Linked DNA regions of Homo sapiens. The protein of the gene in region 2 purifies or fractionates together with the protein of the main gene of each other region. This does not show direct contact. Each region holds a gene or a part of one and is shown on either strand. Other genes may lie near its edges. The genes, in order: RALGAPB, DPH7 and RALGAPA2.

The links.
Region 1: the proteins of DPH7 (region 2) and RALGAPB purify together in Homo sapiens (affinity purification with mass spectrometry; 2 studies listed by BioGRID and IntAct, with this or other methods). This does not show direct contact.
Region 3: the proteins of DPH7 (region 2) and RALGAPA2 purify together in Homo sapiens (affinity purification with mass spectrometry; 2 studies listed by BioGRID and IntAct, with this or other methods). This does not show direct contact.

Annotation. Positions count from the first base shown.
Region 1 is NC_000020.11:38,524,628-38,532,682, reverse strand, and holds part of RALGAPB (ral GTPase-activating protein subunit beta), read right to left. Parts: intron 7,906-8,055; coding exon 7,738-7,905; intron 7,280-7,737; coding exon 7,165-7,279; intron 6,789-7,164; coding exon 6,641-6,788; intron 1,517-6,640; coding exon 1,452-1,516; intron 1-1,451. UniProt on the Homo sapiens protein: Non-catalytic subunit of the heterodimeric RalGAP1 and RalGAP2 complexes which act as GTPase activators for the Ras-like small GTPases RALA and RALB.
Region 2 is NC_000009.12:137,561,675-137,569,729, reverse strand, and holds part of DPH7 (diphthine methyltransferase), read left to right. Parts: intron 1-4,575; coding exon 4,576-4,645; intron 4,646-4,771; coding exon 4,772-4,837; intron 4,838-5,123; coding exon 5,124-5,296; intron 5,297-8,055.
Region 3 is NC_000020.11:20,702,121-20,710,175, reverse strand, and holds part of RALGAPA2 (ral GTPase-activating protein subunit alpha-2), read left to right. Parts: intron 1-8,055.

The DNA.
Region 1 (8,055 bases), on a different chromosome or scaffold from region 2:
AGCATAAATAAAGGTCAATCATTAAAAACCATGTTGATAAAGCAGAATGTGCCAACTGAATAGTACAAACTGATAGTAACAGAAATTGACAAGGGATTAAAACCACTGTGGTATTTTTACACACACAAATCTACTGGAGGGTATGAAGGATTTGTACTACTACAAGTGCCCATACTGGGGTCTTCTTTGCCACTATTTACAAAGGGCTGGCCCAGCTTTTTCATCTTTACTAGACTTCACTAGATTCCAGGTCCTTAAAAAGAATACCCTAGTGCCTCCCAAGCAAAACCTCAGAACAGAAATATAAGCTTAAAAAGCATGAATAAGGCCAGGCGCGCTGGCTCACACCTGTAATCCCGGCACTTTGGGAGGCCGAGGCAGGCGGATCACGAGGTCAGGAGATCGAGACCATCCTGGCTAACACAGTGAAACCCCATCTCTATTAAAAAATACAAAAAAATTAGCCGGGCGCAGTGGCAGGCGCCTGTAGTCCCAGCTACTCGGGAGGCTGAGGCAGAAGAATGGCAGGAACCTGGGAGGCGGAGTTTGCAGCGAGCAGAGATTGCGCCACTGCACTCAAGCCTGGGAGTCAGAGCGAGACTCTGTCTCAAAACCAAAGCAAAACAAAACAAAACAAAAAACAAAAAGGCATGAATAAACAAACGGCAACTTTCAAATACAGTTATATCAGAAAACACAAACAATACTAGGGTTAGTTTTAACTCCCGTATGTATAGGGGCTAATAAACCTATCTGTTAGACTTCCCTCATTTTTCCCCATATAAACACAGTTCATTATATTCAGATCAGTAAATTATTATTCACCATCTACTGAGACACGAATGTAATTTCCGTAATAATAATTTGATCACCCATCTTACATCTACTCAGCTTACTACATCTACCCAACTTACCCCAGTATACCCTATTAACCCCTCCATTGTCTTGCCTATACTCCAAGTATAGGGATGATATATCTTGAAGACAAAGCAGAGAGCACTGGAAGTCTCTGAGAAGCATTTTTGATTTGGAAGCATTGGTGCTTTGAGGGACCTGCAAACTTAGGTCTAGAGGGGTTAGAAAGAATTGATGGGTAAGAAAAAGTTAAACTAGTTGCTTGCTGGCTAGGGCTTTTCCTAGGTTATTCAACCAAGTTTGCCACCACAGCAAAACAAGTAACAGTTTTAAGCAGACACTGTTCAGGAATAAAGACTGGATTTAGCTGTAGTTTCTCTCATACAGAATATCTCGGGAACCTGATGTACAGCTGAAGAGGCACTGAAAAGCAAACCTCAAAATATACATTATTTTTAAAAAGAAAACTTCTGAGCCAATGAGCAGGATTTACAAACCAAAGGCCTTTAAAATTCACAAAGATGGACATTCTGGAATATAATTTACATGAAATTCAAAAGTGATATTCTCTGACAGATTGCATGTATGCTTCTTACCATCTCCATCTGGCAACCAATGGCTTCCAAAAGTGCTGAATCTTGAACAATATTTAACATTGCCCCTACAACAACAATAAAACAGTATTTTATATAAAATACACAAGAACACTAAAATGCGTAAGACATTTTATATGATTAATAGTACAGATAAGAATATAATTTTGGTTGAGCATTCCTGAAATACCCATGAAATTATAGTTGGCTCTTAAACAAGAGCTTGAACTGTACATATGCAGGTTTTTTTCAATAAACATGTTAGAAAGTTTTTTGGAGATCTGTGACAATTTGAAAAAACTCCCAAACTGCATAGCCTAGAAATATTAAAAAAAAAAAAAAATGGCCAGGCACAGTGGTTCATGCCTATAATCCCAGCACTTTGGGTGGCCGAAGTGGGGCGGGAGGTCAAGAGTTCGAGACTAGCCTGGTCAACATGGTGAAACCCCATCTCTACTAAAAATACAAAAATTAGCCGGGTATGGTGGTGTGCGCCTGTAATCTCAGCTACTCAGGAGGCTGAGGCAGGGGAATTGCTTGAACCTGGGAGGTGGAGGTTGCAGTGAGCCGAAATTGCACCACTGCTCTCCAGCCTGGACAACAGAGCGAGACTTCATCTCAAAAAAAAAAAAAGAGAAAGAAAAGAAATATTTAAAAAAGTATAAAAAGTTAAAATTGGCCGGGCATACTAGCTCATGCCTGTAATTCTAGCACTTTGGGAGGCCGAGTCAGCAGGATTGCTTGAAGTCCTAGGAGTTTGAGACCAGAGTGGGCAACAAAGCAAGACCCTGTCTCTAAAAATAAATAAAAAATAAAAAGCTAAAATTTATCAAAAAACTTACGTACACAAACACTTACAGACCATACATGATGCCATTTGCAGTCCAGAGAAATGTAAACAAAGATGTAGTATTAAATAACTGTATAAAATTAGCTGTAGTACATACTGCACTACTGTAATCATTTTGTAGCCTCCTCCTGTTGTTACTGGGGTGAGCTCAAGTGTTAATGAGTATGCTGCTTAAAATACAATGTGATGCTAACCATCTCCATGTGAGTAGTTCATCTCTCTAACAGACTGAACACTGCAGTAAATTGCATACCATGGTTCTCACATGTTTTCATCATGTTTACTGCAACACCATGAACCTTGACTAACGCCATGGGACCCATAGGAAGTGCCACTAGTGATGCTGGAAGTGCTCCCAAGAAGCAGAGAAAAGTCATGACATTACAAGAAAAAGCTGAGTTGCTTGATATGTACTGTAGATTGGGGTCTACAGCTACAACTGCCCAACAGTTGAGACGATTTATCTTATAAACAGACAATTTATGGTATCAATAAATACAGTACTGTAAATGTATTTTCTCTTCCTTATGATTTTCTTTTTTTTGAGATGGAGCCTCACTCCGTCACCCAGGCTGGAGTCCAGTAGCGTGATCTTGGCTCACTGCAACCTCCACCTCCCGGGTTCAAGCAATTCTCTGCCTCGGCCTCCGAGTAGCTGGAATTACAGGCGCCTGCCACCACGCCTGGCTAATTTTTTTTTTCTTTTTTGTATTTTGAGTAGAGACGGGGTTTCACCATCTTGGCCAGGCTGGTCTTGAACTCCTCACCTCGTGATCCACCCACCTCGGCCTCCCAAAGTTCTGGGATTACAGGCATGAGCCACCACGCCCAAGCTTTATTTTTATTTTTATTTTATTTTTTTTTTTTGAGACGGAGTTTCGCTCTTATTGCCCAGGCTGCAGTGCAATGGCATGATCTTGGCTCACTGCAACCTCCGCCTCCCGTGTTCAAACATTCTCCTATCTCAGCCTCCCAAGTAGCTGAGACTACAGGCATGTGCCATCACACCCTGCTAATTTTTGTATTTTTAGTAGATACAGGGTTTCACCATGCTGGCCAGGGTGGTCTCGTGAGTCACCCACCTCAGCTTCCCAAAATGCTGGGATTACAACATGTATTTCTTAATAAAATATTCTTTTCTCCAGCATACTTTATTGTAAAAATGCAGTATATATTAATAATATGCATAAAATACAAAATATGTGTTAATCAACTGGTATGGGTAAGGTTTCTGGTCAACAGTAGGCTATCAGTAGTTAAGTTTTTAGGGAATCAAAAAGTTATATGTGGATCTCAACTACTCAGGGAATTGGCATCACTAACACCCATGTTGTTCAAGGGTCAACTCTACTAATAAATCCACTGATTGGTCAGAAGAGACTCTTTAAAAATTCCTTAATTCTGGCCAGGTGCATTGGTTCATGCCTATAATCCCAGCACTTTGGAAGGGTAAGGCAGGTAGATCATTTGCTATCAGGAGTTCAAGACCAGCTTGGCCAACATGGTAAAATCCTGTGTCTACTAAAAAATACAAAAATTAGCTGGGCGTGGTGGCGGGTGCCAGTAATCCCAGGTACTCAGGAGGGTGAGGTGGAAGAATTGCTTGAACCCAGGAGGCAGAGGTTGCAATAAGCCAAGATCATGCCACTGCCCTCTAGCCTGGGTGACACAGCGAGACTCCATCTCAAAAAAAAAAAATTCCCTAAAATAAATGTGGGCCAGGCACAGTGGCTCACACCTGTAATCCCAGCATTTTGGGAGGCTAAGGAGGGAGGACTGGAGAAGCCCAGAAGTCCGAGACCAGCCTGGGCAACAGAGCAAGACCCTATTCTAACAACAACAAAAAATTAGCCAGGTGTGGTGGCACACGCCTGTGGTCCCAGCTACTTCAGAGGTTGCGGCAGAAGAATCACTTGAGTCCAGGAGCTTGGGCTGCAGTGACCCATGATTGCACCACTGCGCTCCAGCCTGGGCAACAGAGCAAGAACTTGTATTTAAATAAATAAATAAATAAATAAATAAATAAATAAATAAATAAAAATAAAATGAATGTGAAGGTCAAACTTGCTTTATATAAAAACATGCTCATTATCAGATATTTTTTAACTGGTGTAAAAGACCAGATGTAAGCATCTCAATTTCAAGGGTAATATAAACTAAGGAAAATATTATGGAATACTTTCAAAACTAGGTTCTAGTCTTAAAAATAAAACAAACATTACTGTCTGTTTTTTCTACAGGGAAAAAGAAACAAATAAATAAAACAAAAATTACAAAATAAAGTCACAGCAATAGCTTTCTGACCACACTGCTTTTTAAGAATGATTAAAGCCACACAGTCTGGGGCTTGTTGACATCTGCATACCCTGAAGTAAGCTTCATTTATTTATTATCAAGGAAACCATTGTCCTGGAAAGGCTAGGACAGAAATGAGATGGTGAGCCTAACACACTGCTTCTCATCCCCGTGGGAGGTACTCTTGCCCACTATGGATAAAGAGAAGATGGAAAGAGCTTTGCCACTTTATGGCAAGAGTAACAACTGACTCTTCCTTGGAAAGTACATAGGGAGTGCCTCAGAGCAAGGGTGTAACAAAACCAAATACTGCTTCAATCGTAGAAATTATATAATTTCAAGCAAAATTATGTTATTTAAATAACCTAAAACATTGTAACTTGGAGGTTCTCACATATCAAAACATCCCCCTCCACATAAACCACCCTCTGTGTTCAGAATGTATCTGAGATATTATCAATGCCACTGGTAGACTCTGGTTCCAAACCTTGGTCAGACTGACCACATTAACTTCAGAAGGTCTCTAAAAGCCCAGCCTGAACAAGAATATAGCTATACATCATAACTGAGAATGTAAAGAGCAAAAAACTCCATTTGTGAGTCTAGAAAATCATGTCCACAATTAATGGCTTTTGAGACTTACGAAACCCTAAAAAACTTTTTGCCCAGCTACAGACAACTCCAGTCACCTACTAATTAGGTGTCTCTGGATAAATATGGTTCTTGGCCGTTGTGACCCATCTCTTCAGGATCTGTCCCTCAGTTTTAGAGGCCTTTTAGAAACCATTTCAAGGATTGTGTTCCTGTTGGAAGGACATACACCCCACCTCCTCTGGGGGCATAAGGGCTTAAAGGGAATGTCTGATCCCACTTTTGAACAGATAAAAATCTAAGATGCTAGGAAGAAGCTGAATTCTAGTCTTGCTAATGAAGAGAAGAAAGAAAGCCTCTAACCACTGCCAAGGTCAAGTCATCCTCAGAGATCAATTGCTCCATAAGCGGGGAGTTCTAACTGCCACCCAGGTTTGTGGGCTGGGATGGTATTTGCATTCACATGGTTCAGTGGGGACTCCTGTTAGGTGGCTGAGGAAAGCCCTACTTTCCTAAGAGCTTCCACTGTCAAGGGTGGTGATCTCAATACCCAGGATTGCACTTTAGTGGCACTGAGACACAGAAGCAACAACTGAAAACCCTTTGCTTTCAAATGTAATACATTGCTGTTTACCCAATTTGAACATCAGATTAGAGGAAGAAAAGAAGAGCTCCTCTGTTCATCAGGGTCTCTCTGAAGATTTTCAGGGAGATAAGACTGTCCCTTAGTGCTAACACTAGATTTGTCAATCACCAAATACCTTATGATATATTTTGAAAAACATGTAAAAAGCGGGGAGTTTAAGCATTTAAGCAAACAAGATAATTTCAGGTTTTGTGTTGTGAAAAAAATGATGAAATAAGATAATCTTTAGCAAGTATTGTTAGGGAAGCTCTCTCTTAAGAAGATGATGAAGAAAAGCTAAACAAAAATCTAGGGAAAGAACACCCCAGCAGGAGGGATATAAAGTAAGGTTCTGAAGAAATCATTAGCTGATGTGTTTGAGAAAAAAAGGACTAGGACGAAAGTGCAGACTGATGAGACCTGTAAGTAATGGGCAGGAGTAAGAGGAAGAGGCAAGAAGAAGAGGAAGAGGCAGGAGGAAGAGGACGAGGCGGGAGGAAGAGAAAGAGGCAGGAGGAAGGAGAGCAGGAAGAAAGGAGGAAAGAAGAGAGGGATGGGAAGGAGAGGCAAAGAGTGGAGAAAGGAGAGAAGGGAGAAGAGAAAGAAAAGCAAAAGCACAAATAAATGACCAACCAAGACAACTGTAACACTTTACTTCCCTCATCTCACTGCTTTAAATTTTTTTACATTAAAAAACTAACTTGTGCCTCTGATTCAGAGTAAGTAGAGCTACATTAGGTTTAGGCTCCCATTACCGACTGCCGCCTCCTCAGCAGGCCTGTAGTCAACAGTACTTTGGTTTCACTTACAAAATAACGTGTGAATACAAACCTAATATCATTTGGGTGTTGTTGGGGTCCGTTTCAGTTTGCAAGGCACCTATTAATATATTCACAAGTCTCAACTTCAGGGACAGAAAAGTTATTGGTTTATCATAAGAAGAGCTGTCATCGTTACTAAACTTTCCTTCCAGGACCACCTATGGAAAAAACAAATAATATTTAACATCAGCTGTTGCAGCTTATGATGCCCATGTGGGAACAGCTAGATGGAGGAACGGATCAGTATAATGAGAAAGGCTTTCAGTCTAATATTAGCCACTGTGCTGAATCTGTCACTAACAATATGTTAATAGATGTCCTTAGCCTATAACTGCTTGAAAACTGGTAGAAAAACTGACAGAACAAAAAAAAAAAATCACAAGTCAACTTTGTTAATTCACTTGAAATAACTTGATGAAATAACTTGAATTGAAAAATAAAAAAAGCTCCTGTTTCATTTTTAACATTCGATTTGACTTAAATTAGTACAAAAAACAGAATATAGGATATAAAAAAACTTTAACAAAACATTACCTCAGATTTGACTGTGCCAAAATGATGAGGGAGGGGCAACAAAGAAAGCAGGATATTAATGGAGGATCTTCGCAATTCTGTTGGATTTACATAGCTTTTGAATTTTGAGAGTTCTCTGCCAAAAAATAAAAAGCTATTAGTATTTTTGAACTAAAGCACATTTTTAGCTACTGCCAAATACATATAATGCCAATTTTTCCAAATCCAAGCATTGTGTATTTGTATATTGTATATTTCTAAGTTAAACTGTTACTGAATTAAACTAGAAGTTGATTGATTGATTTCTTTACCTAAAACGTAAGGCCTACTCTACAAAGGTAAGACCTCTGTGTTGGAGTTGTTCTTACCCTTCTAGACCAGGCCAAAAACGATTCAACAAGCCCACAGACAAATGAGAACTGAAGGATTTCAGGGATGAGGTGGGTTTGGACACACTACACTCATTTAATGTCGCCTGAGTTCTCTTGGACTATGAAGACAACTGGACAGGATACATTAGGAAACTGGGGAGGAAGCACCAACAGACCAGGCCAAATCAGACAGTTGATATAATAGCAGAGAATGATAGCTTACCTGTCAGGCAAAATGGTTTCAAGAGCTGAAATAAAGTAAGGAACCACAACATCAATCCCTTTCAAGTCACAGCAGAACAAAGGAGGAGAGTTTAGAATAACGCTGGCCAAGACAGGATGGCACACATAATCATTTATCTGCAAACCTTGAATTAAAAGCATGTAAAATCTAGGAAAGCAAGAAAAAAATTTTAAACAAACTGCTGATCAAAAGTTTTCATAATTATTATTTGCTACATAGTTAACTGAAAGTCTATTTCCACTCATCACTATTTTTACCCTTTAAAGAAAGGACATTATTGGAATTACTGGAATTTAT
Region 2 (8,055 bases):
ATGGATGGATCATGGGTGGATGGATGGATTTTTGGATGGTGGGTGGTGGGTGGTGGGTCGTGGGTGGTGGATGGTGGATGGATGGTGGATTGTTGGATGGATGGATGGTGGGTGAGTGGCTGGCTGGCTGGCTTGATAGACGGGGGGTGGATGGATGGATTTTTGGGTGGTGGGTGGTGGGTGGATGGATGGTAGATTGTTGGATGGAAGGTGGGAGGGCGGGTGGGTCGATGGATGGTGGATTGTTGGATGGATGGATGGATGGATGGTGGGTGAGTGACTGGCTGGCTGGATGGATGGATGGTGGGTGGATGGATGGATTTTTGGATGGTGGGTGGTGGGTGGTGGGTGGTGGATGGATGGTGGATTGTTGGATGGATAGTGGGTAGATGGATGGAAGGTGGGTGGGGGGTGGGTGGGGGCATGGGTGGATGGATGGTGGAATTTTGGATAGGGTGAGGTCGGGGGGTGGATAGATGGTGAGATGGATGGAAGGTGGGTGGGTAGTGGGAGCTGGATGATGCAGGGGTGGGTGATGTGGTTAGGCCTAGACGTTTTCCTTCTGATCTTCTTCACTCTCCCTGTGGGCCCTGCTCTTGAGCTTCCCTTCCTTCAGGTGCCACCATTCACCCCATGTCTGCATTGCTTTTCTTGGAAGATTGGTTGTGGTTCAGTGCACCAACTCCTCTCTTCTCCCATCCTTTTCGTTCCCCTAAACAAGTGCTTTAAGATGACAGAGGGCACCTTCCTTTCAGGTGCATGGTGTGGAGTCCTTGTGCTTGCTGCCTCCTGTGTGCAGTTTCTGTTCAGGGCTCTGATCTGGCAACTCTTCTTCTTAGAAGCCAGGGCTTTATTCACTGGAGCCCTTAGCAAAGGCAGTTTAGCCCCTAGGACCTAGTAACGGCCCCTGTGAACAATGGTCGCCTGCACCTGATGGCCTTCAGGGCCCCTTCAGTTTCCATTTCCTCCCTTCTGTTCCTGCAGGCTTCTTTCTGTTCCCGTCCGTCTTTCCCCTCCTGCTTCCAGTCTCTAGAGAGTCAAGGCACAGTGATGACTTTCCTGGGGGTTGTTTCTGGGACCTCCTGTTGAGGTGGCAACCTAAGACTCCTCCAGCAAAGTCACCAGGGGAACTTCCTCACAGACAGAGTCACCCCGGGGAGCTTCCTCACAGACAGAGTCACCCAGGGGAGCTTCCTCACAGACAGTCACCCAGGGGAGCTTCCTCACAGACAGAGTCACCCAGGGGAGCTTCCTCACAGACAGAGTCACCCAGGGGAGCTTCCTCACAGACAGAGTCACCCAGGGGAGCTTCCTCACAGACAGAGTCACCCAGGGGAGCTTCCTCACAGACAGAGTCACCCAGGGGAGCTTCCTCACAGACAGAGTCACCCAGGGGAGCTTCCTCACAGACAGTCACCCAGGGGAGCTTCCTCACAGACAGAGTCACCCAGGGGAGCTTCCTCACAGAGTCACCCAGGGGAGCTTCCTCACAGACAGAGTCACCCAGGGGAGCTTCCTCACAGACAGTCACCCAGGGGAGCTTCCTCACAGACAGAGTCACCCAGGGGAGCTTCCTCACAGACAGAGTCACCCCGGGGAGCTTCCTCACAGACAGAGTCACCCAGGGGAGCTTCCTCACAGACAGAGTCACCCAGGGGAGCTTCCTCACAGACAGAGTCACCCAGGGGAGCTTCCTCACAGACAGTCACCCAGGGGAGCTTCCTCACAGACAGAGTCACCCAGGGGAGCTTCCTCACAGACAGAGTCACCCCGGGGAGCTTCCTCACAGACAGAGTCACCCCGGGGAGCTTCCTCACAGACAGAGTCACCCCGGGGAGCTTCCTCACAGACAGAGTCACCCCGGGGAGCTTCCTCACAGACAGAGTCACCCAGGGGAGCTTCCTCACAGACAGAGTCACCCAGGGGAGCTTCCTCACAGACAGAGTCACCCAGGGGAGCTTCCTCACAGACAGAGTCACCCAGGGGAGCTTCCTCACAGACAGAGTCACCCCGGGGAGCTTCCTCACGGACAGAGTCACCCCGGGGAGCTTCCTCACGGACAGAGTCACCCAGGGGAGCTTCCTCACAGACAGTCACCCAGGGGAGCTTCCTCACAGACAGAGTCACCCAGGGGAGCTTCCTCACAGACAGAGTCACCCAGGGGAGCTTCCTCACAGACAGAGTCACCCAGGGGAGCTTCCTCACAGACAGTCACCCAGGGGAGCTTCCTCACAGACAGTCACCCCGGGGAGCTTCCTCACAGACAGAGTCACCCAGGGGAGCTTCCTCACAGACAGAGTCACCCAGGGGAGCTTCCTCACAGACAGAGTCACCCAGGGGAGCTTCCTCACAGACAGAGTCACCCAGGGGAGCTTCCTCACAGACAGTCACCCAGGGGAGCTTCCTCACAGACAGAGTCACCCAGGGGAGCTTCCTCACAGACAGAGTCACCCAGGGGAGCTTCCTCACAGACAGTCACCCAGGGGAGCTTCCTCACAGACAGTCACCCCGGGGAGCTTCCTCACAGACAGAGTCACCCCGGGGAGCTTCCTCACAGACAGAGTCACCCAGGGGAGCTTCCTCACAGACAGAGTCACCCAGGGGAGCTTCCTCACAGACAGAGTCACCCAGGGGAGCTTCCTCACAGACAGTCACCCAGGGGAGCTTCCTCACAGACAGAGTCACCCCGGGGAGCTTCCTCACAGACAGAGTCACCCAGGGGAGCTTCCTCACAGACAGAGTCACCCAGGGGAGCTTCCTCACAGACAGAGTCACCCAGGGGAGCTTCCTCACAGACAGAGTCACCCAGGGGAGCTTCCTCACAGACAGTCACCCAGGGGAGCTTCCTCACAGACAGTCACCCCGGGGAGCTTCCTCACAGACAGAGTCACCCCGGGGAGCTTCCTCACAGACAGAGTCACCCCGGGGAGCTTCCTCACAGACAGAGTCACCCAGGGGAGCTTCCTCACAGACAGAGTCACCCAGGGGAGCTTCCTCACAGACAGAGTCATCCAGGGGAGCTTCCTCACAGACAGAGTCACCCAGGGGAGCTTCCTCACAGACAGAGTCACCCAGGGGAGCTTCCTCACAGACAGAGTCACCCAGGGGAGCTTCCTCACAGACAGAGTCATCCAGGGGAGCTTCCTCACAGACAGAGTCACCCCGGGGAGCTTCCTCACAGACAGAGTCACCCCGGGGAGCTTCCTCACAGACAGAGTCACCCCGGGGAGCTTCCTCACAGACAGAGTCACCCCGGGGAGCTTCCTCACAGACAGAGTCACCCAGGGGAGCTTCCTCACAGACAGAGTCACCCAGGGGAGCTTCCTCACAGACAGTCACCCAGGGGAGCTTCCTCACAGACAGAGTCACCCAGGGGAGCTTCCTCACAGACAGAGTCACCCAGGGGAGCTTCCTCACAGACAGTCACCCAGGGGAGCTTCCTCACAGACAGAGTCACCCAGGGGAGCTTCCTCACAGACAGTCACCCCGGGGAGCTTCCTCACAGACAGAGTCACCCAGGGGAGCTTCCTCACAGACAGAGTCACCCAGGGGAGCTTCCTCACAGACAGTCACCCAGGGGAGCTTCCTCACAGACAGAGTCACCCAGGGGAGCTTCCTCACAGACAGAGTCACCCAGGGGAGCTTCCTCACAGACAGTCACCCAGGGGAGCTTCCTCACAGACAGAGTCACCCAGGGGAGCTTCCTCACAGACAGTCACCCAGGGGAGCTTCCTCACAGACAGAGTCACCCAGGGGAGCTTCCTCACAGACAGTCACCCCGGGGAGCTTCCTCACAGACAGAGTCACCCAGGGGAGCTTCCTCACAGACAGAGTCACCCAGGGGAGCTTCCTCACAGACAGTCACCCAGGGGAGCTTCCTCACAGACAGTCACCCCGGGGAGCTTCCTCACAGACAGAGTCACCCCGGGGAGCTTCCTCACAGACAGAGTCACCCCGGGGAGCTTCCTCACAGACAGAGTCACCCAGGGGAGCTTCCTCACAGACAGAGTCACCCAGGGGAGCTTCCTCACAGACAGAGTCATCCAGGGGAGCTTCCTCACAGACAGAGTCACCCAGGGGAGCTTCCTCACAGACAGAGTCACCCAGGGGAGCTTCCTCACAGACAGAGTCACCCAGGGGAGCTTCCTCACAGACAGAGTCACCCAGGGGAGCTTCCTCACAGACAGAGTCACCCAGGGGAGCTTCCTCACAGACAGAGTCACCCCGGGGAGCTTCCTCACAGACAGTCACCCAGGGGAGCTTCCTCACAGACAGTCACCCAGGGGAGCTTCCTCACAGACAGAGTCATCCAGGGGAGCTTCCTCACAGACAGAGTCACCCAGGGGAGCTTCCTCACAGACAGAGTCACCCAGGGGAGCTTCCTCACAGACAGTCACCCCGGGGAGCTTCCTCACAGACAGTCACCCAGGGGAGCTTCCTCACAGACAGAGTCACCCCGGGGAGCTTCCTCACAGACAGTCACCCCGGGGAGCTTCCTCACAGACATCAACGGCCTAACTGAGAACACTCATTTCCTGTCATTAGTGGTGTTGATGCTTCTCTTTCTCCACACAGGGGGCGACGATGGCCTTCTGAGGGGCTGGGACACCAGGGTACCCGGCAAATTTCTCTTCACCAGCAAAAGGTAACTGCCCAAGGGCCAGCACTCGGTGCCCACACCAGCCCCCGCGTTCCCTGGGTCACCAGCCCTCCCGTTCCCTGGGTGGGTCTGTGTGCTGGACACTGGTTCAGAAGCCGCCTCTGCTTGCAGACACACCATGGGTGTGTGCAGCATCCAGAGCAGCCCTCATCGGGAGCACATCCTGGCCACGGGAAGGTGAGTCCCCAGGAGGCTCTCGGGCCCTTCTCGTCTCTTTCGCTGTCCCCGGGGGGCTCCTGGGCCCTTCTTCCCTCTTTCGCTGCCTTTCCTCCTGGCACCATTGCAGCATTTCGTCTGCCAGTGCTTCGCCGGAGTGTAGGTATATGGGTTTGGTAAAGGGGACTTTGTCCTCGAGGGATGCATGGGACAGGTCTCTGGGAGACGTTCTGTGCCCCCCAGGGGCCTTGTGGAACAGGTGAGCCTGGGCTTTCCTTATATGCCTCCTGTGGTTGGTCGGTTTCAGCTATGATGAACACATCCTACTGTGGGACACACGAAACATGAAGCAGCCGTTGGCAGATACGCCTGTGCAGGGTGGGGTATGGAGAATCAAGTGGCACCCTTTCCACCACCACCTGCTCCTGGCCGCCTGCATGCACAGTGGCTTTAAGATCCTCAACTGCCAAAAGGCAATGGGTGAGTGGGGACCCGTGGCTGCTGGGCCTCAGGGCAGGGCACCAGTTCCCTGCCCCCTCGCTCTGCTGGGCTCTTCCCTCAGCTCCCTGCTCCCTTGCTCTGCTGGGCTCTTCCCTCAGCTTTTACACACTCCCAGCGTCGCGCCCTAGACTTGGTCGTGATCCATAACTGTCCCAGCTCCAGAATCTCTGCTCTCTAACCACAGTTTTCCCTGGTTTCCCAGCTCCGTCATTCCGGTGCCTCCTGCATTTCGGCAGACCTCTGACCCCACTGGGACCTCTAGTCTGGAGGCTTGGCCACCCATCACTCCCATAACCATCCTTGTCTGTGCTCTCCCATGCTCTTCCTGCCTGTGGTCAGCTGGGACTCTGTGGTCTGCTGCCCCCTGTGAGCTCACACTCCATTCCCTTCATCCCTTTCTCACACTCTGGGCAGAACCCAGTGTTGTTTTGTTGGGAACAAGCACCTCTGATTCTGGTTGAGCCGGAGAACGTGGCTGGAATCAGCTGTCCACGTTGTGTTCTAGTAGGTCCCTGGGATTCCTGGTGATCTGTAACATTTCTCTAGGCAGTAATCCCCCACTGTCAGAACTGGTTCACATTTTCTTCTCTCTGCTCAAACCTCCAGGACCTCCTCTTCCCTCCTGACTTGCAGCTCATGATCTCTCCTCTTTCGCCTCTTCTCTCTCCCCTCACTCCAAAAATAAGCAATCACAAAACCACCTCATCTTCCCACCATTAAGCCCACCAGCCTCTCGGGCCACCCACATGCTCTCTGCCCTCTGCAGCGGTGGGTGACCCACACCTGTTCCCAAGGCCAGTTTCTTCTCTGCACTGGATTGTACTCAAGGACTTGATTGACTCGATTTCCGCATGGTATTCCTCTTTTTTTTTTTTTTTTTTGAGACGGAGTCTTGCTCTGTCACCCAGGCTGGAGTGCAGTGGTGCGATCTCGGCTCACCACAGCCTTCGCCTCCTGGGTTCTAGCGATTCTCCTGCCTCAGCCTCCCAAGTAGCTGGGATTACAGGCACCCACCACCATGCCTGGCTGATTTTTATAGTTTTAGAAGAGATGGGGGGTTCACCATGTTGGTCAGGCTGGTCTGGAACTCCTGACCTCGTGATCCGCCTGCCTTGGCCTCCCGAAGTGTTAGGATTACAGGCGTGAGCCACCGTGCCTGGCCTGTATTCCTCTGTGTTTTGCATCTTTAGTTTCTCCATCTCTTCTGTATTGTTTCTGTTAGTTCTGTGAATGTGCTTTGTATTTCTCATCGTTTTTTGTTTTGTTTTGAGATGGTGTCTTGCTCTGTCACCCAGGCTGGAGTGTGGTGGTGCAATTGTAGCTCACTGCAGCCTCAACCTCCTGGGGCTCAAACCATCCTCCCATCTCAGCCTCCTGAGTAGCTGGGACCCCCATGCCAAGCCATAATATTTCTTGTATTAAAACAATTTGAGATCTTTTTTTTTTGAGATGGAGTCTTGCTCTGTCACCCAGAATGGTGTACAGTGGTGTGATCTCGTCTCACTGCAACCTCTGCTTCCTGGCTTCAAGCAATTCTCCTGCCTCAGCCTCCAGAGTAGCTGGGATCACAGGCTTGTGCCACCACGCCTGGCTAATTTTTGTATTTTTAGTAGAGACGGGGTTTCACCACGTTGGCCAGGCTGGTCTTGAACTCCTGACCTCAGGTGATCCGCCCACCTTGGCCTCCCAAAGTACAGGCATGAGCCACCGTGCCCAGCCCCTGGGCTCAAACCATCCTTCCACCTCAGCCTCCCGAGTAGCTGGGACCACCATGCCCAGCCATAATATTTCTCATCTTAAAACAATTTGAGGTCTTTTTTCTTTATTAATGGTGATACATTTTCCTCTGAGCACTGCTTTTGCTGCAACCCATACATTTTGGTATGTTGTATTTTTATTTTCATTCATCTCAAGGTACTTTCTAATTTCCCATGTGGTTTTTTTCTTCGACCATTGGTTATTTATGAGTGTGTTGTTTAATGTACATGTTTTTAAGTGCCCACATTTCTTTCTGTTACCGATTTCTAATGTTATTCCATTGTGCATTCCTGTTGAATTTACTGAGATTAGTTTTGTGGCCTAGAGTGTGGTCTCTGCTGGGGAGTGCCCCTGTGCACTTGCGGACGTGTGTTCTGCTGCTGTTGGCTGGAGTGCCCTGTAGGTGCCTGTGAGGTCTCGGCTTTATAATGTTCAGATCTTCTGGTTCCTTACTGAATCTCCTGTCTGGGCAATATTGAAAGTGGTCTGTTGGCTGGGCACGGTGGCTCACGCCTGTAATCCCAGTACTTTGGGAGGCTGAGGTGGGCAGATCACAAGGTCAGGAGATCGAGACCATCCTGGCTAACATGGTGAAACCCCGTCTCTACTAAAAATACAAAAAATTAGCCAGGCGCTGTGGTGGGTGCCTGCAGTCCCAGCTACTTGGGAGGCTGAGGCAGGAGAATGGCGTGAACCCAGGAGGCGGAGCTTGCAGTGAGCCGAGATCGCGCCACTGCACTCCAGCCTGGGAGACACAGCGAGACTCCATCTCAAAAAAATAAAAGAAAGTGGGCTATTGCTACCTCCAACTCTAACTGTAGAATTATGTATTTCCAGCCTCGTTTCCATCAGTTTTTACTTCACGTATTTTGGGGATCTCTTTTATATATGTTTATAATTCTGGTATCTTCCAGATGTGCTGACCCTTTTATCAATATAAAGTGTCTGTCTTTAAATCTAGTAACATTTTTTGTTTTAAA
Region 3 (8,055 bases), on a different chromosome or scaffold from region 2:
AATAAAGTTTTTTTTTAAGTATGCAAAGATTATGCCACTTACTTGGGTATTTGCAGCCTGTCCCTGCCGCCTGCAGCTTCATGACTTGAGCTAGTTACGTAGCCTGTCTCTGAACCTCGGTTTCTTTGCTCTGTAAAATGGGTATGGTAATGTTTGCTTTTTAAAGGATTATTGTGAGTATGATGAATAAATGACTTCAGCTTGAAGTAGGCCTTTAACAGTTTCTTTCCCATTACATATCTCCCACCATTAATAGGATAGGACCAGTATTTTGATAGGTAATTTTTCTCCGTCTTTCTTATTTTTGATAATAGTGATGAATTTGTTCTCTTTTCCTAAAAAGTAGTCTGTATTTAAAACAACTGGGTGAGAAACATAAAATTAGCTGTGGAAGTAGAGTATTTCTTAGTATCATGGTAATAACTCCAATTTGGATGTAGATACTTTCACCTGGCTATAGACTGGTCTGGTATGATTAACTTTATTTTACAGAGGGGTAAGCTGAGGCACAGGCAGGCTTGACACGTATCAAGCCATGTAGCAGACGGTTTACTTATGTTAGAGGAAGAACGAAGAGCTGTTAGGTCCTGTGACTTCCAGTTCTTCCTACACTGTTGACAAAACAAAAACCAAAAAACCCTGTGTATTACCATATTGCTCCAGCAAAGATTCCATGTCTTTTTTTTAACAGGATCTTTGCTCTGTTGTCCACGTTGGAGTACAGTAGTTTGACCTTGCCTCAACTGCTGCAGCCTTGGCCTCCCTGGCTCGAGTAATCTCCCACCTCAGCCCCTGGAGTAGCTGGGGCTACAGGCATGTACCACCACACTAGGCTCATTTTTGTATTTTTTTTTTTTGAGATGGAGTCTCACTCTGTTACCCACGCTGGAGTGCAGTGGTGCCGTCTTGGCTCACTGCAACCTCCGCCTCCTGGGCTCAAGCAATTCTCATGCCTCAGCCTCCTGAGTGGCTGGGATTACAGGTGTGTACCACCATGCCTGGCTAATTTTTGTATTTTTAGTAGAGACAGGGGTTCACCGTGTTGGCCAGGCTGGTCTTGAACTCCTGGCTTCAGGTGATCTGCCCGACTCGGCCTCCCAAAGAGCTGGGATTACAGGTGTGAGCCACCATGTCCGGCCAGATTTTTGTATTTTTTGTAGAAGACGGGGTTTTGCCATGTTGCCCAGGCTGGTCTTGAGCTCACAGACTCAAACGATCCTCCCACTTCAGCCTCCCAAAGTGCTGGGCTTACAGGCATAAGCCACCATGCCTGGCCAGATTCTAATTAAAAGTTGAGTGCTTACTATGAGTCCTAAATTAGGATATAGAACTGGCATTGATGTAGTGAGAAGAATAGATACAAAATAATAGTAAATTTATGGTGTGTTATGTAATTAGATGGTCAGGTATATGGTAGAATCCATTATAGGATTTCAGAGAACAAAAGAGATAATTAAGAATGTCATAAAAATAGGGGCATCTTTAAGGAGATTTGTAGTAGTCTGTTCTCACTCTGCTAATAAAGACATACCTGAGACTGGGTAATTTATAAAGGAAGGAGGTTTAATTGACTCACAGTTCCACATGCCTCGGGAGGCCTCACAATCATGGCAGAAGGTGAATGAGAAGCAAAGTCATGTCTTACATGGTGGCAGGCAAGAGAGCTTGTGCAGGGGAAATCCCATTTATAAAACCATCAGATCTTGTGAGATTCATTCACTACCATGAGAACAGTATGGGGGAAGCCACCCTCATGATTCAATTATCTCCACCCGGCCCTTGACATATGGGGATTATTACAATTCCAGGTGAGATTTGGATGGGGACACAGCCAAATCATATCAACGTTTTACTTACGCTGGGTTCCAAAGAATGGTTAGACTAGTTCTGTCCAATAGAGATATAATGTAAGCCACATGTGCAATTTTAATCTTTTTTAGTGACCACATGTTAAAAAGTAAAAAGAATCAGGTGAAATTAATTTTAATAGTGCATTTTATTTAACTCCATGTATTTAATATATATTATATCTGCAGGTAATCAATATAAAATGCTATCAGTATTTTTTACATCTTTTTTTCATATGAAGTTTTTGAAATTCAGTGTATATTGTATACTTACAGCACATATCAGTTCACACTAGCTGTTTTTCAAGTGCTCATTAGCCATATGTCACTAGTGGCTGCACACTGGACATAGCAAGGTTAGAATCTGGGAAAGTAGAGGGGAAGGTCAATTACAACCAGGGGAAGATGGAAGAGCTGGTGGCAGAAGTAACATGACAGTGATGGTAAGTAACATGGCGAGGTGTGGTGTTGGGCACTGAGGACCCTTGCCCAGAGGATGTCCCCAGTGTCCTGCATAGGCCAGGGGTAGGGTAGGTTCCTGGGGAAGGAGTGGAACAGTAGCCTGACAAGCAGAAGCTGAGGCTGGCTGGGGGATCAGAAGCCAGACTCAGGTCAAATCAAGTGACCTGGGTTTGGACCAGAGAGTAGAGAACCGTCTCTCACAAATGCTGTATATACAAACAGAGCAAAACATAGCATTGTCGTATAGTTCCTTTTGTGCATATGTTGCTCATGTTGCTCTAGGTAGGAACAAATTGACTTACAGTTGTAACTGTTGTCTTTATTTTATCATTAGCATTTTTGATGTTTTGTTCCTCTCATTTTTAAGTACAAACATTTGTTGAGACCATATCCCATAATTTAGCTTACCATTTCCTGGATTGTGAAATTTTGTTCTTTTCTCTCCTTCCTTCTTTCCTTTTTTTTCTTCCTTCCCTTTTCCTGATAGAAGTAATACTGCAGTAAACATCTTGAGAAGCAGCTTTTTCGATATTTCCTTAGATTTTATTGAAGTAAGATTGCTGGGTTTGAACATTCGATGACTTGTTTCACAGTGCTTTTCTAAGTGTTGCTCCATTGGCCCTGCTAGCAGCAAGGATTGAGGCTGCCATTTTCACTGTAGTCTGACTACCAATAAACACCTTTTTATAATTTGATAATTGGTGGTAGGTATTTGGGATAATAGGAGTGTCATCTACAGAGTGAGAACAATTGGGAAGGGGGAAGGGATCCTGGGCAAGGACGGGGAAGATGAGTTTGGTGTTCTACATGTTGAGTTTAAGAAAAGGCAAGATCCAAGTGGCGTGTCTGGGGGGTTGTGGGACATGGGATCTGGACCTTAATGAAATGATAGAATGCTATCATATATTTAGTTTTATTGGTTATTATCATCATGACATCATTGAATCTTTTTGCAACTGTGACAAAGGAAGTGTTCCTATCCCCAGCTGAGGAAACTGAAGCTCAGTGAGAATAGCTACTTGTCTGCCAGCAAGTGGGAAAGCTGAGACTTATCTGATTATGAAGGCCATGTTATGCTTCTGCTAGTTATCTGATTCAAAAGGAAATTTACATATCAGAAAATGTATTTATCTAGTAGAATGAATGATAACATAGAAACAAAATCACAACAGTTTTTGCATGCCTCCCAGAAATGTTGCTGTGATATTGGCCTCTCTCTTTCTGGTCCATTTTTCTGCATTTTTCTAGGGAGACTTGGGATTATCATATTTGATTTGAGCATGGGCAGACGATAAACAATCTCCTCCGGTGTTTTAGTGTTCATTGCCTTCCCTGTAACCTTGGCAGGCCTAGCAGGTGATAAATATTTGCGTGGACATTAATGCCACGTGGACATTCTACAACTAGAACAAAGCTGGGAGGTGTAATTTCAAACTCTTCAGGCAGTCTTAGTATGGTCTCTCTCTGTTGACCTTATTTGGTACAAAGTGATTTTGTCGTAATGCTTCCTTTGCTGTTTTTTCATCAATTACATTTATAACCTCTAGAATGTAAATGGAACTTTGGACACGTATATGTAGCACAAATACACCATCCATCCCTCTAAGGCTTGAGGTTGTCTAGACTTCTGATGTGAGAAAAGTGAACACAGGGTAAATGTCCAAACTCGTTTAAGATAACTGAAAAAGGTTGGCTTCCATCTTTTACTCTGAGAAGGGAGATAATTGGTAGGTCTAGAATATTTTGCTGTAAACTTTTATAATTTGGATTTTTATTTTGTAAGTACTTTATTTGTGGACAGGCATAATACTTTTACTAGGTATGTAGAGTACTGATTTTTGGTTACCAAACGGGGTATCAATATAAAACTATAGAGAATTTTTTATTTAGAAAAAACCTTGGCGGGGTGCGGTGGCTCACGCCTATAATCCCAACACTTTGGGAGGCCGAGGTGGGCAGATCACGAGGTCAGGAGTTGAAGGCCAGCCTGGCCAACATGGTGAAACACCGTCTCTAGTAAAAATACAAAAATTAGCCAGGGGTGGTTGCGCGTGCCTGTAATCCCAGCTGCTCGGGAGGCTGAGGCAGGAGAACTGCTTGAATCTGGGAGGTGGAGGTTGCAGTGAGCAGAGATCGCACCACTGCACTCCAGCCTAGGCAACAGAGTAAGACTCTCAAAAACAAAACAAAACAAAACAAAACAACAACAACAACAAAACTTGACTTTCAAAATAGCAAGTTGTTTCAATTTGAATTTTAAAAATTTTTTAAAAGAAGGCATATAAATTATTGTTCTGTGAAATTAAGAATAACGAATATAAGGTATTAAACAACTATTCTTGTACTTGAATTAAAAAAAAATCAAGCTGGGTGCAATTGCTCATGGCTGTAATCCCAACACTTTGCTAGGGTTAAGTGAGAGGATCAGCCCAGAAGTTCAGTACTAGCCTGGGCAATATAGTGAGACCCCTTCTCTACAAAAAAAATGAAGAAATTAGCTGGGTATGGTTGCATGTGCTGTGGTCCCAGCTCCTCGGGAGGCTGAGGCTGGAGGATCACTTGGGCCCAGAAGGTCAAGGCTACAGTGAACCTTGATCATGCCACTGCACTCCAGCTTAGGTGACAGAGCAAGACCCTGTATCAACAACAACAAAAATCAAGTCACAAACATTGTTTTAAAGACTGTGTGAGTGCATGCCTGATATAAGTAAGTCTGTGTTTGGATGTTAATAAGGCACAAGCCCAGGATTTATGGTTTGGTAGGAGAAATAGCCATGTAAACAATGAAATTTACCGTGAGGGTTTTGAGTGGCACAGAGGAGTGTGGTGGAACCATAGAGGTGGGCACAGGTGCAGAGGAGGAACAGCAGCAAAGCCTCCTGGAGACACCAGCCAGTGCTTCTTTAGGGAGCTTAGGTCTGAGGTAGGTTTTGAATAATGGATAAAGGATTTTACCAGATGGACAAGTTGGGGATGAGGGTTCTGTAGAGAGAGGAGCTTGTGCAAAGGTAATGGTGTGTAGCACCATGGAGTTAAGTGCACAATGGCTTTTATCCTGTGGCGTAAGTAGATGTTGGGACTCCAGTGAAGGGTTTTAAGCAGAAGAGGAGCCACATCCTATCTCTTCCCATTTAGTGTCTGAGAATCCCATTCTCCTCTGAGATTTGAAACATAGATGCTGGGAGAGAGAGAGCTCCCTTCCTTTGGATTGCAAGCCCTGAAGATATAGTCTGGGCTGCTGGCATTTGTTTTTCCCACCATGTGGGGAGCATGTGCCTTAAATTGAATCCTACTCTCAGAGGGAATGACAATAGAGAGGTGGAGAGTGAGAGGAAGCCCATGAGTCCTGAGTTTGGCCATGTCTTTGCCAGGACCTTCTTGAGCTGCTCAGTTGCAGGAACTGGTAACATGTTAACTAGCTTGAGTCATATTTCTGGGTCTTGGAGTTGAAAGAGTACCTAACATGGAGGTGTTTGTGTATATGGAGATTTGACTTTTATATTTTTTTAGAACTGGAGGAATTTGAGTTTATATAGGAGAAGTAGCTAATGAAGAGCAAAACTGAAGAAACGGGGGATAATAATGCAGAACGGTGTGATCTGCAGTGAGACTGAGAGCCTGGGGTGGGAGATCAGGCTTAACAAGAGGGACACCTCTTCCTCTAAGGCCACTTGAAAGAAGCAGGAATGGGGTGCTAGATGATGGGGACATGGAGGGAGTTCTCACACCATGGCTTCTGTACCCTCTGTGAAGGTAGCAGGTGAAGTCATTTGCTGAGCCAGTTTTCTTACTCATGTGGTGATAGGAACTTGAATATGTCTTGCTCCCTCTTCTGTGCCACATAACCTCTTAAAAAAAGGACATCTGTTATCTGGAAGGCTTTGTTTTTTTTCCTTAGGGAGTGACTGAAAAATGCATTTAACGTTTATGTTAAATATTCATCAAGAAGGCGGAAAATCTATATAGAATGAGGCCAGTTTAAGTAGCACAGATGTTGTGTGCCCTTCCACTCAATGAACATGTGCCCTAGAGTGGACCTAAGGTGGGACATAGGAACCCGCCATGTCGTCCATAGTCTTCTTTCCTTTATGCCTTTCATTGTGAGAACATCCCCCTGCTGGGTATGACTCCAGAGTTAAAGGATCATTTTAATTTTTTCTACTTTTGCCTTTCTTGTGACTTAACCGCATATAAAATGTAACTCTGTTGATATCTCATGTTCATGTACCAGTTTACACTTTTGCAAAATGTCTTCTCATAGTCTCATTTAATCAAATTACTACCTTAAGCAATCAGTTCATATTAATTATAAAAGAAATTTATTAAATATCTATTTGTGAATGTATTTTAGGTGGTCTCTAATACAGGTTATCTTTACATAGTTAAAGCCTCCTGGATGTGTCAATACAAATAGCATTTTCAGGTGAGAGGATCCAGAATCCGCTAGCAAAATCTAGCAATTGAGAATTTGATAAAGTTAAAATAGGAATTTTAGAGAGATTATGTCATTTAAAGGATTTACCATATAGATTCTTAGTAGATTTGTTTCTGAGTTCATTCTGAATCCTCAATTCAGGGTTTTAGCCTTAATTTTCAGAAAAGTGATGTTTCATAACCATTTTATGTCTTTTATGTTGTTTTAGAAACTGAAGCCACAGCTATTTTAAAAATAGTTGTAATCTCTTTTTTTTTTTGAGATGGAGTCTTGGTTTGTCACGCAGGCTGGAGTTCAGTGGTGCAATTTCGCCTCACTGCAACCTCTGCCTCCTGGGTTGAAGTGATTCTCATGCCTCAGCCACCTGAGTAGCTGGGATCACAGGCTTGTGCCACCATGCCTGGCTAATTTTTGTGTTTTTAGTAGAGACAAGGTTTTGCCACGTTGGCTATGCTGGTCTTGAAATCCTCGCCTCCAGTGATTAGTCCGCCTCGGCCTCCCAAACTGCTGGGATTACAGGCCTGAGCCACCATGCCTGGACAAAGTAGTAATCAAATTTTGATATTACAATTATGGTTAAGTTAAAAAAATCCCTTTTGATAAAGTTCAGGAGCCCATGGATATTGTGTTTGATTTCAGGTGATGACACATATTCATTGAACCTTAACCATGCCTGAAAGTACAAGCATGGTACTTGTGACATTGCTTGTGCCTGACTATGAGAGCCATAAGAATGTGCTGCTTCTCCTGTTGTGGGGAGCATGATTGACTGATGGCCCCAGCTGCTGCTCCCTGAATCTACCAATTTTGAGCCAAAGCTTAGTTTCCCTTGGGAAGCTCTTAGCCCATTACTGAGCACTGCAGGAGTATTAATGCTGCCTGTTCCTGCACACTTCAGATGCCTCTGAAGGGCCACTTTGGCTTGAGGACTTCCTATTGGCCTAAGACCTTCTCAGACCTATGTTGAAGTCTGACACTTCCTACTCAACCTTCCTTCATTCCCCTTCTCCTTCCCAGGGGTCAGACCTGCATCGTGGTCTAAATCCTCTCCCTGCCTTCACCAGCTCCTTCTCATTTATCCTTCATGGGCATTTACCCCAATAAATCTCTTGCATGTCTAATCCTGTCTTGGCCTCTACTTCTCAGAGAACCCACACTAATCTACCATCCATTTCCTGGATGGTGTTGTCCATCCTGCCATCTACAGTTTTTCCAGGAGACATTGCCAACACTTTTTATCTTCCATGTGGGCTTTCTTCATCCTCTTGCCCTGAATGTATCTCTTCTCAGAATTCCCACAGCACTTTGTAG